Linked DNA regions of Homo sapiens. The protein of the gene in region 3 purifies or fractionates together with the protein of the main gene of each other region. This does not show direct contact. Each region holds a gene or a part of one and is shown on either strand. Other genes may lie near its edges.

Region 1 (3,733 bases), on a different chromosome or scaffold from region 3:
AAATATCTTCTCTTCTGTTTGCTTCCTTCATGTCTTTCTTCTCTGAATAAAGTCAGGTTAATTTTTGGATGAAATACATCATCTCCATTGCATCTGTTTGTATGTAGATGCCCTTCTCTGCCCAGCCTAATACTTATAATATGGACTGGAAACTGAAAATGAGCTTACAAGCTGTGTTTTTTTTCCTCATGCTTTTGTTTTGTTTCATCTGTGTGATAATCTACAGATATCTACTCATAAACTCTGAGAAATAAAGTAATATGTTAGAAGAATGAAGTAAATGATTTCTTAGTTAATATAACTACCATGTTTCATTTTGTTACCAATCATAATTTTTAAAAAGGATTTTAAAAATGCTGAATTTTACTTGGCTAGGTGTCATTTCTATGTGTAAAAACAAGCCAAAGGCAGGACCTGTATTCTAAATGGATTATTATTTACTAAATTTAGCTTCCTAGTCCTTAGCATGCTATTTGTCTTTTCTTGCTCTTGGCTCTTGATTGAATAACCTCTCAGTCTTTTTCTTTTCCCCAGTTAGCCTTATATATACACCAAGCTCTTGATCTGAACTACCTACTTACATTTTTTCAGAATTGGCTATTATATAATGATAGTAGTTATTATTATTGAGTGCTTACTATCTCAGTCATTCTCAGAGAGTATATTCTTGAGAATAACATCAACCCCATTTTATAGGTGAGGAAGGAAACTAAGGCATAGGAAGATAACCTAGCTAATAAGGTTATATCTAGCATTGTGACAATTTCTTTTTCTTATTCTGAACTTAATGCCGTAATTGCAGCTCCCATTATGAAATATGGCTTTATTAAAGAACTTCAAGTTACCACTCAGTCTCATTTGTTGGCTCTTCTTCCTTTAATAGCAACACGCCCTAGGACTTCATCCTTGACCCATTTCCCTTTTCCCTCCTGTATACTCTTTTCGGTTGACCATATCTAAATTTGTAACATCACTTGCCATATATTGGCTGATGACTCCAAAATTTGTTATCTCCAGTGTGAACCCCTGTCCTAATGTAAGTAAACAAATGCCTCTATCTTAAACACACATCCTTGAATATCCCATAGGAACCTTATACCCAACATCTCCAAAATGGAAATCATCACGTTTAACTCCAAACTTACTCTTTTTCTTGCATTCTCTCTCTCAGTTGACATCAATACCAGCTGTCCATTTACTCAAGTCAGAAATCTGGTTGTCGTACTAGACTGCTCTTTTTTTCTTTTCTGGACTCTTAACATCCAGTCAGTGTCTAAGAATTTCTTGTATTTATCTTCTTTTCTCCATTGTCATGATCTCTTGAGGAATGATAGAGGGTACAGAACAAAGCAAAGACTAATGATGATAATAGTAACATAGGTATAAACCCTTGAATTTTTGTATTGTACTTAGAACTTTAGAAGCATCTTTATATGTATATTATCTCATGATTTTAGAATAAAGGGGAAGATGTAACAGAAAAGCACTGGCCTGAGAATGACATTCCTGTGGTGGGATATAGGATAATAAGGCTGAGTTTTCTTACATGAGTAAGAAAATTGACTGTGGAAGGAATCCAGAAATGTTTTAGTAACCTTGAATAAAGCTTTTCTAGTTGAGGTAAAAATTCATAAGGGAAAAATATTATTTGTGCAAAGCAAGTTTGTGTATTTTTGTATAATGATGGGTTCATTTAATTTTAAAAGCTTCCCTCTAAATGAAATATGCATTCGAAACGATTTAAAAAAGTAGTTTATACTTAAAATGTTCCTAAGGGAACTATTTTGAAGGTTAGAAATGATTGTGAAAAGATCAGTCTCATTTCAAATTCCATACAAAGCAGCCAGTCCTTCGAAGTGTTGAATGAGAAGCAAAGTCAGGAGGTTGTAATACCTTATTAAATATATTTCATGGCCCCAAGTTTTCCCAGAAGCCCGTTGAAAGGGTCTTAGAAAGTTGTTGCTCCACAGAATTGTCCCTTACTTCCTTGGAATGATGAAGATACTCCTTTATCTGCTGATTTGGTGTAATAATGACATACTAGGAATTTATGAATATTTTAAGATATAAAAACCATGTATTGGAAATTATGAACTGTGGCATTTTAAATAATATTTTGAGATACTGATTCCTAAGTTATCCTGCATAATCAGTTAATGCATATTTTACAAAACATAATGCCATGTAGATCCATTGTTTATTTGATAAAACATTACTTGTGATTATTTCTTTACAAAGTCTGGCATTGGTTGGTCAGCAGTACAATATCCTCTTCTTATACTGTTATTTTTCTAAGAAATTATATTTTAAATGTGTGTCATTTCACCTGTAAAATTTTCCCCATAAGTATTAATCAGATCAGGAGTTTGTGGAATAACATATGTTTTGGACATTGCATTTTTAGAAGAATGTTGACAAACTGGACAGGAAATTGGTGAGGTTACATAGAAACTGCAATGAGATGATGGCGACTGTGCCTTGACATGCTTATTGTTGATACCACCATTACCAGTATTCTTTCACCCGTCTCTGCTGCAGCTACCCACACCTGTTTTATCTAGCCAGGATAGTAGCCCCTTTGTTTACTTCCATTCTGTCTCATGGGATGAGAAGTCCCTCCACCTTTTCAGCCTATCCCATTTAATTCTGTGTTTCTTCCCCAGATTAGTGCAAGGATGGAAGCTTGGGTTGTAGGATTCTGAGGTCTCTGGAAATTACTGGTTCTGTTATTTTTCAGCATAAATTAGTCTAGGAATCATAACAATTTTATAAGATGAGATAGCAGGTTTTAATAGCACATAATGTATAGTAAACTGTGGACTTCTTGCTTTTTCAGCCAAAGATGTAACTTATATATGTCCATTCACTGGCGCTGTACGAGGAACTCTGACTGTCACGAATTATAGGTTATATTTCAAAAGCATGGAACGGGTAAGAGTCAGATTAGATTTTTGTATGTACATGAGTGTGTTGTTTGTAGCTAGTTTTGTTCATTTCTGATCATTTCTAATTAAAGCATTTCTGATTAAGATTTTGATCAGCTCTATAATTGGACAGTATTAATTGCTCAGTTTTAATTATTTTTTCTTTCCTTCTTTAGGATCCCCCATTTGTTTTAGATGCTTCCCTTGGTGTGATAAATAGAGTAGAAAAAATTGGTGGTGCTTCTAGTCGAGGTGAAAATTCTTATGGACTAGAAACTGTGTGTAAGGTAAATGTTATAATATGTATGTGATTTTCTTTGGTTTGAAAAGCTTTGTATTAAATAGAACCTCTGTTTTGAAATTGGTTTCTAAAATATAAAATGGATTTCCAATTAGAAATGTTATTTTAGTATGACATTGATAGAAGAAAACAAAATTTAGCAGTAATAGAAAAGGTGATTCATGAATTAGACTTAATTCTTTTGGGCCCAGTTCAGTCTACATATTTTGATATATTCACAAATTCATAACTTATTTTTTAATAATGATCATCTTGGCCGGACATGGTGGCTCACGCCTATAATCCCAACACTTTCAGAGACTGAGGCAGGTGGATCACATCAGGTCAAGAGTTCGAGATCAGTCTGGCCAACATGATGAAAACGCATCTCTACTAAAAATACAAAAATTAACCAGGCGTGGTGGCGGGCACCTGTAATCTCAGCTATTGGGGAGGCTGAGGCAGGAGAATTGCTTGAACCTGGGAGGCGGATGTTGCAGTGAGCCAAGATAGTGCCACTGCACTCCAG
Region 2 (3,500 bases), on a different chromosome or scaffold from region 3:
CAAACATTTAAAAATGCCAACTTTGCTGGTAATCAGAGGAGAGGCATGTTAAGTTAAAACAACATTGAAATACCATTTCCTTCCTCAAGATTGGCACACATTTTGACATGACAATTTCTGTTGGCCAGAGTATGGGAAAACAGGTGTCCTCATAAACTGCTCTTGGGAGTGAAAATTGGTATCACAACTTTGGAGGATAATTTGACAGTAGGTGTCAAAAAAGATTTTATTATTTTTTTATTTTTTTTTGAGATGGAGTCTCACTCTGTTGCCCAGGCTGGAGTGCAGTGGTGCAATCTTGGCTCACTGCAACCTCCATCTCCCGGGTTCAAGTGATTCTCCTGCCTCAGCCTCCCGAGTAGCTGGGATTACAGGGATGCGCCACCATGCCCGGCTAATTTTGTATTTTTAGTAGAGACGGGGTTTCACCATGTTGGCCAGGCTGGTCACGAACTCCTGACCTCAAGTGATCTGCCCACCTCGGCCTCCCAAAGTGCTGGGATTACAGGTGTGAGCCACCACACCCGCCAGATGTCAAAAATTTTCATGGGCACAGCCCGTGATCCAGAAGTTCCGCTTCTCAATGTATACCCAAGATAAATGCTTGCATGAGGAGACATTTGCAGGAGTGTTTATTGCAGCCTTATTTGTAGTATTGGATGCCCCCCAAATGTTTGTCAGTGAGAAGGCACTGCCCCTGGGTCATGTGCACACCATGAGATGGAGCATTTGAGCCTCGGCTCGCTGGGACACATGGATTAGTGAAAAGGGCAGATTGCAGAACAGGATGGGCTAGTCTATTTCCATTCTTATGTTTAAAAAGAAAACTCAATCAACACCAGCCTGGGCAATGTGGCGAGACCCTGTCTCTACAAAAAATACAAAAAAATTAGCCAGGCATAGTGGCACGTGCCTGTGGTCCCAGCTACGAGGGAGGCTAAGGTGGGAGGATGGCTTAAGCCCAGGAGGTTGGAGTTTGCAGTGAGCTAAGATTACACCACTGCACCCCATCCTGAGTAACAGAACTAGACCCTATCTCAAAAAAGAAAGAAAAAGAAAACTCAAAACAAAAAAAGGAAACAGACAGGTAGTTGCCAGTGGCTGGAGTGGGAAGAGGATTTGATGATGAAGTGGCATGAGCGAATTTTCGAGGGTGATGGAATTGTTTTCTTTTTTCTTTTTGAGACAGAGTCTCACTCTGTCACACTAGGCTGGAGTGCAGTGGCATGATCTCAGCTCACTGCAACCTCTGCCTCTCAGGTTCAAGCAATTCTCCTGCCTTAGCCTCCCGAGTAGCTGGGATTACAGGCACCTGCCACCACGCCTGGCTAAGTTTTGCATTTTGTTAGTAGAGACGGGGTTTCACCATGCTGGCCAGTCTGGTCTCGAACTCCTGAACTCAAGTGATCCACTTGTCTCAGCCTCCCAAAGTGCTGGGATTACAGGCATGAGCCACCGCGCCCAGCCAGAATTGTTTTCTATCTTAATTGTGTTTAGAGGTTACAGAACTCTATGCATATATAAAGATTCATAGAATTGTTCACTAACATTGGGTGAATTAGAGTAAATAGATTATACTTGATTAAAAAAATGTTTATATATGCACACAAATACAAATATATTTCTTTCCCAAAGGCACAAATTATATATGTACAGATGCATGCCTTGGGCCTGATAATGACAGTTACACCTGACAGGAGGTGTGGGGTGGGAGGGGAACCAGGGTTAGGCTGGAGTGGTCAGTAGATGCTTTAGTTTTTTATACCATGTTTCAAACTTTTACAAGGAGAATATATTGAGATGTTATCTGTATAATTGAAGATTAATTTTAAAATTATATTCCTACCATTAGTATAGGCAAAATCCTATTTATAGGTTGCTGCTTTTATAATTCAGAGACTGATCCTGTTCTCAAAACAGGATAACTAAATAGAAGGACCATTCAAAAAATACCTGTGTGCCAGGCGCAGTGGCTCACGCCTATAATCCCAGCACTTTGGGAGGCCGAGTCGGGTGGATGCTTGAGCTCAGGAGTTTGAGACCATCCTGGGTAACATAGCAAGACCTTGTCTCTACCAAAAATACAAAAAATTAGCCAGGCATGGTGGTGCGTGCCTGCAGTCTCAGCAACTTAGGAGGCTGAGGTGGGAGGATCACTAGAGCCCAGGAGGTCGCGGCTGCAGTGAGCTGAGATTGTGCCACTGCACTCCAGCGTGGGCAAGAGTGAGACTCCATCACAAAGAAAAAACTTGTGTGGGCCGGGCGCAGTGGCTCATGCCTATAATCCCAGCACTTTGGGAGGCCGAGGCAAATGGATCACCTGAGGTCAGGAGTTCGAGACCAGCTTGGCCAATATGGTGAAACCCTGTCTCTATTAAAAATACAGAAAATCAGCCGGGTGTGGTGGTGGGTGCCTGTAATCCCAGCTACTCAGGAGGCTGAGGCAGGAGAATTGCTTGAACCCAGGAGGTGGAGGTTGCAGTGAGCCAAGATTGTGCCATTATTGCACTCCAGCCTGGGCAACAAGAGCAAAACTCCGTCTCAAAAAAAAAAAAAAAAAAGAAGAACCTAACTCTTGTGTATATGTGTATTGCTGTTTAATTACATCAATAATAAATTAATTAATTAAACACCAATAATTACATTACATTATTGATGTTTAATACCTGCTCCTTGTTATAAATTTAAACAATACAGACAATTACAAACCAAGTGAATGTCAACCCTTCCACCCTGCACTCCCGTTGCCTGGAGGTAGTCATCATTAACTGATTAATGACTGTCCTTCTTGACCTTTGACTCAATACCTTCACACATATGCTCAGAGTTGAGTTTTCTTGATGATGTTTTTGCAAAAGTAGAATCATGCTACACACAGGTGAGGGATCTCACACATTCGCCCCATTGGCGGTTGTGTAATAGTCCACTGTATGGATGCACCATGACTTACGGACAGATGTTGATAGATGTATGAGTTATTTCCAGTGTTTTTGCTCTTTTGAATAATTCTGCAGGAAGTTGTACCCACACCTTTGTGCACTGTGAGTATTTTGGTGGACTGGAACCGGGTGCTGTAGGTGTGTTACGCAGACATCCATGGGCATCAGATATCCCATTTCCTGCTCTGCTCTTCAGACCACCATCCCTGCTCAGGGCTGCATCCCAGAACTGTCTTGAAGAGCCCCTCCTACAGTGCCATGCACACAGTGACAGCCCAGGGGTTCTCATCAGGTGTCCACTGGAACCACCTGGTGCCCTTGATCAATACGGATCCCCTCATCCCCCGACCCCACCATTCTGAGGCAGTGGTCTGGGGTGGGCCAGAGTTTGTATAACATCAGGCCACCCGGGGGTTCCTGGTGCCCATGCCAGGGAGAACCACTGCTGCCACCCTCTCTTGACCACTGTCTTTTTTTCCTCCCAGAACAGGTTCTCAGACTATGAGAAGAGGAAGGTAAGAAAATGCCTTTACCCTTCTGTCACTCTTTTCTCATTAAAGA
Region 3 (3,733 bases):
TATTTTTAGTAGAGACAAGGTTTAACCATGTTGGCCAGGATGGTCTTGATTTCTTGACCTTGTGATCCGCCCGCCTTGGCCTCCCAAAGTGTTGGGATTACAGGCGTGAGCCATTGCACCCGGCCATAAGATGGAAATCTTAGTGGTGACAAATAAAATTTAGATCTTAGTTTAAAAAAACATAGTCAATAATATATTCAATTTTATAGTCTGCTCTCTTTTTCAGGTAACATAAGCATTTTCTTTCTTCCTTTTTTTTTTTTTTTGAGACACGGTTTTACTTTGTTGCCCAGGTTGGAGGGCACTGGCACAATCTTGGCTCACTGCAACCTCCACCTCCCAGGTTCAAGCAATTCTCGTGCCTCAGCCTCCTGAGTAGCCGGGATTACAGGTGCACGCCACCACACCTGGCTGATTTTTTGTATTTTAGTAGAGATGGGGTTTCCCCATGTTGCCCAGGCTGGTCTCGAACTCCTGAGCTCAGGCAATCCGCCCGTCTTGGCCTCCCAAAGTGCTGGGATTACAGGCGTGAGCCACCGTGCCCGGCCACATAAGCATTTTCTTTTTTTTTAACTTTTTTTTTTGAGACGAAGTCTCGCTCTTGTCCCCCAGGCTGGAGTGCAATGGTGCTATCTGGGTTCACTACAACCTCTGCCTCCCGGGTTCAAGCGATTCTCCTGCCTCAGCCTCCCAAGTAGCTGGGATTACAGGCGCCTGCCACCACGCCTGGCTAATTTTTGTATTTTTAGTAGAGACAGGGTTTCACCATGTTGGCCAGGCTGGTCTCGAACTCCTGACCTCAGGTGATCCGCCTGCCTCAGCCTCCCAAAGAAGCATTTTCTTATACAAAAATTTATTAGGCATAATGTGACTTGTACGAATGTATGCCAGTTTTCTTCACCATACCTCTACGGCATTTTTCCATTTCGGTAACTTTTACAAAGAGAGTCATTTGAACAGTATAACAGTGCCAGAATAAGGTATAATTAAAGCACAGTTTATTTGCCCCTTAATCCTGCAGGAAAGGTGAAGTCCAGTGGAACATAGACCTTGTCTTTTTGTTTATCTCCATATTCCTAGGACTTGGAAATATGTCAAGCATGTAATAGATGTTCAAATAAACATTATATATGTAATATATGTATATATATAATTTATTTATTTATTTATTTCAGACGGAGTCTCACTCTGTTGTCCAGACTGGAGTGCAATGGTGTGATCTTGGCTCTGGGTTTGGATTGACAATGTTTTAAGCTATAAACATAGGTCAGATAGGTGGGTGCCCTGGTGACTAGTGAAGATGTGCGATGGCATTGAATGTGATCAACTGTGTTGTGTAGAGAAAGGTAGGCCCAGGGACTTAGGGAGGCCATCTGGGATGGAACATGTATATTTTGAATAGCTTCAGTTTACTCAGCCTGACCATGGTCAGCTAGTTCAAATGGAATTCACAGCTCTGACGTGTGATAACTTTAGTTAAGATAGTTTGTTTTGAAAGGTAAGCAGAGGAAACCACAAAATCAGAATGGGCATTCCTTTGAGGAGGACAAATAAGAAGTGGGTAACTGAAATTGTTCCTACCCGAATGCATTTGTGCTGAATTTCCAAGTATGTAAAAAAATTGTGAAATTACAAATGAAAGTGAAATTTATAGTTATTACCTTTTGTTAGTTACTGTCTCTCTCTCTCTCTCTTTTTATTTTTTCTTTTTTGGTACCGAGTCTCACCCTATTGTCCAGGCTGGAATGCAGTGGTGTGATCTCAGCTCACTGCAACCTCCGCCTCCCGGCTTCAAGTGATTCTCCTGCCTCAGCCTCCCATGCAGCTCATGTAGCTGGGACCACAGGCACACGCCACCACGCCCGGCTACTTTTTATATTTTTAGTAGAGACATTGTTTCGCCACGCTGACCAGGATGGTCTTGAACTCCTGACCTCAGGTGATCCGCCCGCCTTGGCCTCCCAAAGTGCTGAGATTACAGGCATGAGCCACCGCACCTGGTCTCTCTTTTTATTTTTGAGACAGGATCTTGCTTTGTCACCCAGGCTGGAGTGCAGTGGCACAATCACTTGGCTAACTGCAGCCTTGACCTCCTGGGCTCAAGCAATCCTCCTGCCTCAGCCTCCCCAGTAGCTGGGACTACAGGTGTGTGCCACCACACCTGGCTAATGTTTTATTTTTCTTTTGTAGAGAGGGAGTCTCACTATGTTGACCAGGTTGGTGTCGAACTTCTGACCTCAAGAGATCCTCCCACCTCAGCCTTCCAAAGTGTTGGGATTACAGATGTGAGCCACCATGCCTGGCATTATTTTTCTTTTTCTGTAACTGTAATTTTATATTGTGGTCTTACTCAGTTGCCCATTTGCCTGCCATGAGTACACAAATAATACTGTTTATGGTCTACTTTCACATACATGGTGAAATTACAAGAGCAGAAGGCCCCTGTACACACTCAAGGGAAAAACAATAGTACTCAAAGTAAAGAAAATCAAGTTATTGGGCTTCCTATAAAACAAAAGGGTTTGAATCAGAAAGCAGCAGAAAAGTCAAATAAATTTTCCTTATGACTGTCAACTTAAAAATCACAAGATCTATAAATTTAGAAAGGAGACTTTCTTTTTTAAAACATTTTCTTTTCTTTTTTTTTTTTTGAGACAGAGTCTCACTCTGTTGCCCAGGCTGGAGTGCAGTGGCGTGATCTCAGCTCACTGCAACCTCCGCCTCCCAGGTTCAAGTGATTCTCCTGCCTCAGCCTCCCGAGTAGCTGGGATTACAGGCGCATACTACCATGCTCGGCTAATTTTTGTTTGTTTGTTTGTTTGTTTTTTTTTTGAGACAGAGTTTCGCTCTTGTCACCCAGACTGGAGTGCAATGGTGCGATCTCAGCTCACTGCAACCTCCTCCACCCAGGTTCAAGCAATTATCCTGCCTGAGCCTCCTGAGTACCTGGGATTACAAGTGCCCACAACCACGCCCGGCTAATTTTTGTATTTTTAGTAGAGATGGGATTTCACCATGTTCGCCAGGCTGGTCTTAAACTGCTGACCTCAGGTGATCCACCCGCCTTGGCCTCCCAAAGTGCTGGGATTACAGGTGTGAGCCACTATGCCCAGCCTAACTTTTGTATTTTTTAGTAGAGACAGGGTTTCATCATGTTGGCCAGGCTGGTCTCAAACTCCTGACCTCAGGTGTTCCGCCTGCCTCAGCCTTCCAAAGTGCTGGGATTACAGGCATGAGCCATTGCACCTGGCCAAAATTTTTCTTACCTTTCGAGTCGGAGTCTCACTCTGTTGCCCAGACCGGAGTGCAGTGGCACGATCTGGGCTCACTGCAACCTCTGCCTCCCAGGTTCAAGTGATTCTCGTGCTTCAGCCCCGCAAGTAGCTGGGATTACAGGTGCCTGCCACCACACCTGGCTAATTTTTTATTTTTAGTAGAGACAGGGTTTCACCATGTTGGCCAGGCTGGTCTCGAACTCCTGATCTTAAGTGATCTGCCTGCATTGGCTGCCCAAAGTGCTGGGATTATAGGCGTGAGCCACTGTGCCTGGTGACTTTATTTCTTTTCTTTTCTTTCTTTCTTTTTTTTTTTTTGAGGCAGAGTCTTGCTCTGTCACCCAGGCTGGAGTGCAGTGGCACAATCTCGGCTCACTGCAACTTCCGCCTCCTGGGTTCAAGCCATTCTCCTGCCTCAGCCTCCCTAGTAGCCAGGATTACAGGTGTGCACCACCACA

The links.
Region 1: the proteins of CTPS2 (region 3) and MTMR2 fractionate together in Homo sapiens (co-fractionation; one large-scale study listed by BioGRID). This does not show direct contact.
Region 2: the proteins of CTPS2 (region 3) and LRSAM1 fractionate together in Homo sapiens (co-fractionation; one large-scale study listed by BioGRID). This does not show direct contact.

What each region holds. Positions count from the first base shown.
Region 1 is NC_000011.10:95,861,470-95,865,202, reverse strand, and holds part of MTMR2 (phosphatidylinositol-3,5-bisphosphate 3-phosphatase MTMR2), read left to right. Parts: intron 1-2,836; coding exon 2,837-2,931; intron 2,932-3,100; coding exon 3,101-3,211; intron 3,212-3,733. UniProt on the Homo sapiens protein: Lipid phosphatase that specifically dephosphorylates the D-3 position of phosphatidylinositol 3-phosphate and phosphatidylinositol 3,5-bisphosphate, generating phosphatidylinositol and phosphatidylinositol 5-phosphate.
Region 2 is NC_000009.12:127,475,510-127,479,009, forward strand, and holds part of LRSAM1 (E3 ubiquitin-protein ligase LRSAM1), read left to right. Parts: intron 1-3,424; coding exon 3,425-3,454; intron 3,455-3,500.
Region 3 is NC_000023.11:16,705,961-16,709,693, reverse strand, and holds part of CTPS2 (CTP synthase 2), read left to right. Parts: intron 1-1,175; exon of another isoform or gene 1,176-1,275; intron 1,276-2,196; exon of another isoform or gene 2,197-2,285; intron 2,286-3,733. UniProt on the Homo sapiens protein: Catalyzes the ATP-dependent amination of UTP to CTP with either L-glutamine or ammonia as the source of nitrogen. Constitutes the rate-limiting enzyme in the synthesis of cytosine nucleotides.